Linked DNA regions of Homo sapiens: region 1 is linked to region 2. Evidence: fine-mapped expression QTL. Tissue or cell type: blood mononuclear cells. Region 2 holds a variant in brackets; the other region holds the start of a gene. All regions are shown on one strand. Distances are from middle to middle. Region 1 holds the start of SPAG17 (sperm associated antigen 17). Region 2 overlaps SPAG17 (sperm associated antigen 17).

Region 1 (2,919 bases), 150 kb after region 2:
TATCAAACAGAATTACTGTTAATAGGAAAAAAAAACAGTTATAGTGGAAAATAAAGACAGGTAAAAATTTCTCATGAAGGCAACACAAGACTTTAGATCCATTTTCCCTTTAAGTACTGACTCTCTAGTGCACCATACAGACATATATAAAATGAAAAAAAAATTTTTTTTCCCCACTTTTCAAAGTAGTTCATAATGGCGGGCTGGAATTTCCAGAAACAACTTTTCTCTTCCCAAATGCTAACTTGTACGTAGAAACAGCTTAATGTAGAAGGGGATTTCCAGCTGCAGGTGACAAGAGCTATTGGGCTCCTCATTTACTGAAGCTGGGTGGGGAGCCAGTGAATTCTGGGATCTCATGCACTTTGAAGTCCTGTGGTAGGTGGTTTGTAGATTGCCTGGTGCCTTTGTGGCATTCTGTGGGTAAGTTGGCCGCCAACCCCTCATTGCTCTGATCTCCCACACCTTAAAAATATGTCAAAACTTTAATATAGTGGGATCAGGGCATTACATTAAAAAATCATCTTTTCCTATCTATACAAGGCTCGCTTGTACTAAATACAGTGTAATTCTAGGCACTCCGTGTCTGTTTTCACTCAGCATTTATTAAAGCCCTATTATGGGCCAGGCCACAGATGATTTGATGCGATTCTCATCCTTTAGAAGGTTTCAGGAGAAAACAAAAAGTCCATAAAAGGAATTCCAGTACAATTGTGGAGTGCCATCTGGACGACTTCACTGAAAAGGTTCTGGAGGTGTCAGAGCGACACCTCCTCTCTTCCCCACTAGGCAGTTCTCACCAACCTTTGAAATCACACTGACTCACCTGGTGGGTGTTCCCTTAAGTTCCGTTCGTTTATCAAGCACTTCCTGTCCCTGGGACCCTGGGTCCTGGAACCATCAGGCCACGGAGAGATACGGAAGAGAGGGCGAGCCTTAAGGCGTCGCCTAGGAGGGTCTGGCCGGGCCTCTGGCATTGCCGGGGGCAGGGAGGGCTTAAAGGGCTCAAGGCTCACCTGATTGAACTGTGCAGCTATGAGCGAGGGTTCCCATATCTTAGAACTGGTGTTCACAGTTCCTCCTTTCTCCTTCTTGGGTGCCATGCAAAGGACGGGAGAAGCATTGGCCTCTAAACTGGGCGCAGGCCCTGCCTAAGCGTCCCCGCTACCACAGTAACCGAAGCCACGCCCAGTTCCTGAACCACGTCGGCTCCCCTCCCCCAACACCGTTCGGAATCCTTGGGTCAACCGCCTCCGTCTCCACAGCAACGGAGTTTCAGAGCGCGCGGCAGCTTGGGGGCGGGGTTCCCAGTCCCCCGGTCAAATTTTAGGACTTTTCAGCAGGAAAGCTGCACAACTGGAGGAGGGCAGGACGAGGCTGGCCTCGCAGGTCGGGCTACGTTCTTCTACGGTCTGAGGCGTTGTCTAGAAACTCAAAATCTCTGGAATCCCATCCAGGACTCCTCCATCAAGATTTCTTCCGATCCTGAGTAACCAAGATTGGAATACTGACCCCTTCAGGAGGCAGCCCATGCCGTTTTTTCCCAACCGCTCTAATCTGCCCCAAATGCTTCCTTATATGAATCCAAATTTGTCTCTCCTTGACCTCTACCCTCTGCACTGTTTCAGCCTCCGCCTCTGGGGCCTTACTAAACAAGTCCAATCACCCTTCCACGTGACCCCTTATCTAACTGTAGGTGGGATTAATGTACTTATCTGCCCAAACAGCTCCAGTCCTTTAAACTGCCTTTTATTGATTGGTAAGTAGACTTTTTTTTCCCCTTTTTTCCCACCCTGCACTCATCAATATCTAAAATATCCTGGTTGGACAAGTTTCCCAAAATAATGATAGTAATAAAAACCATTGTTTCTTGGGCACTGGTTATATGCTATATACAAGATTATTTCATTTAATTCTCACAACCACCTTATCCAATTCCCACAGTGTCTGATTGATGGTGCCAGGATTAGATCCCAGGATTATCTGAGTCACAGATCTAGTGTGCATAACTGCTACACTGCTGTCTACTACTGTTTTAGGCCTGCCAAAATGAGGGATACCCCCTTCTGGAGCTAGATTTACTTTTGTTTTTTATTGCAGTGAGACAAATTTGAGGACACCCTGGGGCAGAGCGCAACCAAAGGTGCCTTGCGGTCTCATTAGTCATATGGAATTCAGCACTGACCAGGGCTTAACTAGCCATTAAGGCCCTGCACTTTGCCTAGAGGTGAGATGCTTCAGTTATCCCAGTGGCCCAGATGAGTGAGGTGATGCAAGCCAGAAACTTAATTTCCCTGGGCACAACCTGATGAACGGGTGACCTTCCACGGGGGATGTTCTAAACCTTTTAATTGCTAACCCTTTTAATTTCTTTGAGGAATAAATTGAGGGAAGGAGGATAGTGCTATCCAGCCACTAGCATCCTTTTTCATTTGGGGGCAAATTTTAATGATGATGCTTCAACTTTTGTTCGTAATTTGGACCATGAAAGGAAGTTTATCTTTCCACCCTAATTCTTTAATATAGTTAGAGTGAGCCCTCCCATCATCACAGTTCTTCATCCCTGGATTTAACCAACTTTGGATCCAAAATATTAAAACATAAATAAATATACAAATAAAAATACAGCATAACAACTATTTTACAGCATTTACATAATATTAGATATTATAAATAATCTAGATATGATTTAAAGTGTAGGAGAGGATGTGCGTAGGTTATGTGCAAATACTAGGCCATTTTATTGAGAGGTGAAGCCAGCTGGACTTCCTGGGTTGAGTGGGGACTTGGAGAACTTTTCTTACAACAGGATTGTAAAATGCACCAATCAGCACTCTGTAGCTAGGATTGTAAAATGCACCAATCAGTGCTCTGTAGCTAACAAGGGGATTGTAAAATGCACCAATCAGTGCTCTGTAA
Region 2 (2,919 bases):
TCTGTCATTCCCATCTTTATGCCCATGTTTACTCAGTGTTTAAATCCACTTATTAGTGAGAAAATGCAGCATTTGTTTTTCTGTTCCTGTGTTAGTTCGCTTAGGATAATGGCCTCCGCTGCATCCATGTGCTGCAAAGTATATGTTTTAGTTTTTCGTGGCTGCATAACATTCCGTAGTGTGTATGTACCACATTTTCTTTATCCAGTCCACCACTAATGAGCAACTAGGTTGATTCCATTTCTTTGCTATCATGAATAGAAAACACACATCTGAAGGTATATGTAAAGAATTTGTGAATTTTCTGACTTGTTTTATTTTCAGTTCACCATTTTCTCTATTATCAGATAATAAAGATGGGGCAATATTGATTTAAAATAATGTAACTCATGCAAAGATAATTTTTAGACTGGGAAATTCAAATGAACCATGGAACAAAAGGTAATGCTTTAAGAGAATAAAAAGAGAAGACACAGAGTTGAAGAAAATATCTGCAAAAGACATCTGTTAAAGGACTATTACTCAAAATGTATGAAGAATTCTTAAAGCTCAATAACCAGAAAATAAAAACCTGATTAAAAAATGGGCATGAAACTTCAACAGACACTTCACCAAGGAAGAGATACAAATGGCAAATAAGCATATGAAAAGATGTTCAATATTATTTGTTATCCAGAAAATGCAGATTAAAACAACAAGATACCACTAGACACCTTATAGAATGGAGAAAATCTAAAACAGAAAATAATGGTGAGGATATAGAGCAACAAGAACTTTCATTCATTACTGTGGGAATGCATAATGGTACAGCCAATTTGGAAGACGATTTGGTGGATTCTTCCAACATGAACATACTCTTACCCTATAATCCAAAAGTCACACTCCTTGGTGCTTACCCAAGGGAGTTGAAAACTTATGTCCACACACAAACCTGTACACGAATATTTGTAGCACCTTTATTCACAATTGCCAAAAGCTGGAGGCAACCAAGATGTCCTTCAGTAGGTGGGTGGGAAAATAAAATTGTGGTACATCTAGACAATGTAATATTATTTAGTTTTCAAAAGAAATAAGCTATCAAGCCATGAAAAGACACACAGGAAACTTAAATGCATATTACTAAATGAAAAAAGTCAATCTGAAAAGGCTACATAGTGTATAATTCCAACTACATGCTATTATGGAGAAAGCAAAAGTATGGACACAGTAAAAAGATCAGTGATTACCAGGGATTAGGAAGGAGGGAGAGATGAATAGACAGAGCACAGATTTTCAGGGCAGTGAAACTACTCTGTATGATAGTATAATGGTAGACACATGCCATTATACATTTGTTCAAACCCTTAGAATGCACAACACCAAGGGTAATGTAAACTTTAGACTCTGGGTGATAATGATATGTTAATGTAGGTTCATCAACTGTAACAAATGTACCGCTCTGGGTGAGGCATGTTAATAGTGGAAGAGGCTGGACATGTGTAC[G/A]GGAAGAGGGCATTGAGAAATCTCTGTAACTTCTGTTCAATTTCATCATGAACCTAAAACTGCTATAAAAAATAAAGTCTGGTAAAGAAAAAAGATAACGCTTAATATCCATTAGGGTTCAGTTCAGGAAAATAGGCAACTTCATGCACTATTAATAAGAGAGTGTACTGGTAGAAACTTGAGAAAAAGAACATGCAATAAGCCATTCATTTAATGGAGTGGAGTGGACAGAGACAGGAGTATTAGTCAGAAGAAAGAAACCACTAAACAGCAGCTTACCCGTTTCAAGACTTTGTTCCTCATCTCCTTCTTCTTCCTCTTCTAAATAATAATCCCCTTTCTCTTCCTTTTTCACAATTTCCTTAGGGTCATTTAAATGAATCATAAAATTGTGGTTGTCCTTTACCACTCTCACTTTGATAAAAGTTGGGCCTGAGGAGGAACCATAGAATAGAAGATGGGCTGATTAGGATGCCACATTAAGCTCCTCGACAAGATGGTTACACAATGCTGCACAGAAACAAACACACGAACAGAAAACCAAACACTGCATGTTCTCACTTAGGAATGGCAGCTAAACATTGAGCACACATGAACACAAAGAAGAGAACAATAGACACCAGGGCTACTTGAGGGTGGGAGGAGGGTGAGGACCAAAAACTACCTGCCGAGTACTCTGTTTATTACCTAGGTGATAAAATAATATGCATACCAAAGCCCTGCGATACACAATTTACCTATAGAACCAACCTGAATAGATATCCCTGAAACGAAAATAAAAAGGCAGCATAGAATATAAAACCAGGGAGAGGAAATGCTTAGAGATGTCACCTCTATAAAAGAATGCCTAAGGAAATAAAGTAATGGTGGAATTCCAGGCATGAATGGCAGGTAGACCAAGGAGGTATTTGCAGGCCTTCTAGTCACATTTCAAACTCAATTTCAGAAGAGAAAATGAACTGGCTGAGGCAATGTATGCCTATAATCAATGTTATGATTCATCAAATGATATAATTAATGTTAAATGGTTTTGCAACTTATAAAAATTATGTTATAGTAGCTATTATTATTGTGGTCGTTAATAAAAATTTTTCCAACAACGCATTCTCTTTTTTAGTGTTTGGACTCATTTCCCTTCTTTTTGTTTTAAAAAAATTGGCTATTTCCTTTCAATTTGGATTGAGCTATCATCCCTCAAAATTGACAGAACTAGGAGAAAATATTGAATTTACTACGAATCACCTGAAACTTATACGCATTGTATGCATATGCAAATCTTAGTAAGAGCTACAATAGGTGGATATTGGAAGCAGGTCCCAAACTCTGTGCTCCAGAGCTACACCAGAAAAATGCTGTAAACTCACAGAATGCACTTGGCTTCTGGGATAACAAGGTGTGCTGTAATGAATATTATTAATTAATTGCTTATTGCAGTTA

The links. PIP is the estimated chance that this variant, and not a neighbour inherited with it, causes the effect. A credible set is the group of variants that fine-mapping cannot tell apart.
Region 1: SPAG17 starts here. The variant in region 2 is the best candidate, but not a certain one, in a credible set for the expression of SPAG17 in blood mononuclear cells (TOPMed, PIP 0.69).

Annotation. Positions count from the first base shown.
Region 1 is chr1:118,184,055-118,186,973 of GRCh38, forward strand. It overlaps SPAG17 (sperm associated antigen 17), which reads right to left and starts at 1,174. Exons shown (of 49, transcript NM_206996.4): 1 at 1,017-1,174. The coding sequence starts at 1,103. It overlaps LOC105378930 (a long non-coding RNA gene), which reads left to right and starts at 1,176. Exons shown (of 4, transcript XR_947746.3): 1 at 1,176-1,759; 2 at 2,101-2,227.
Region 2 is chr1:118,037,531-118,040,449 of GRCh38, forward strand. SPAG17 (sperm associated antigen 17) reads right to left here. Exons shown (of 49, transcript NM_206996.4): 23 at 1,762-1,914. Among named protein-coding and RNA genes, the nearest start is that of WDR3, 110 kb to the left of the region's middle. The variant G/A (reference allele first, on the strand shown) is at 1,483.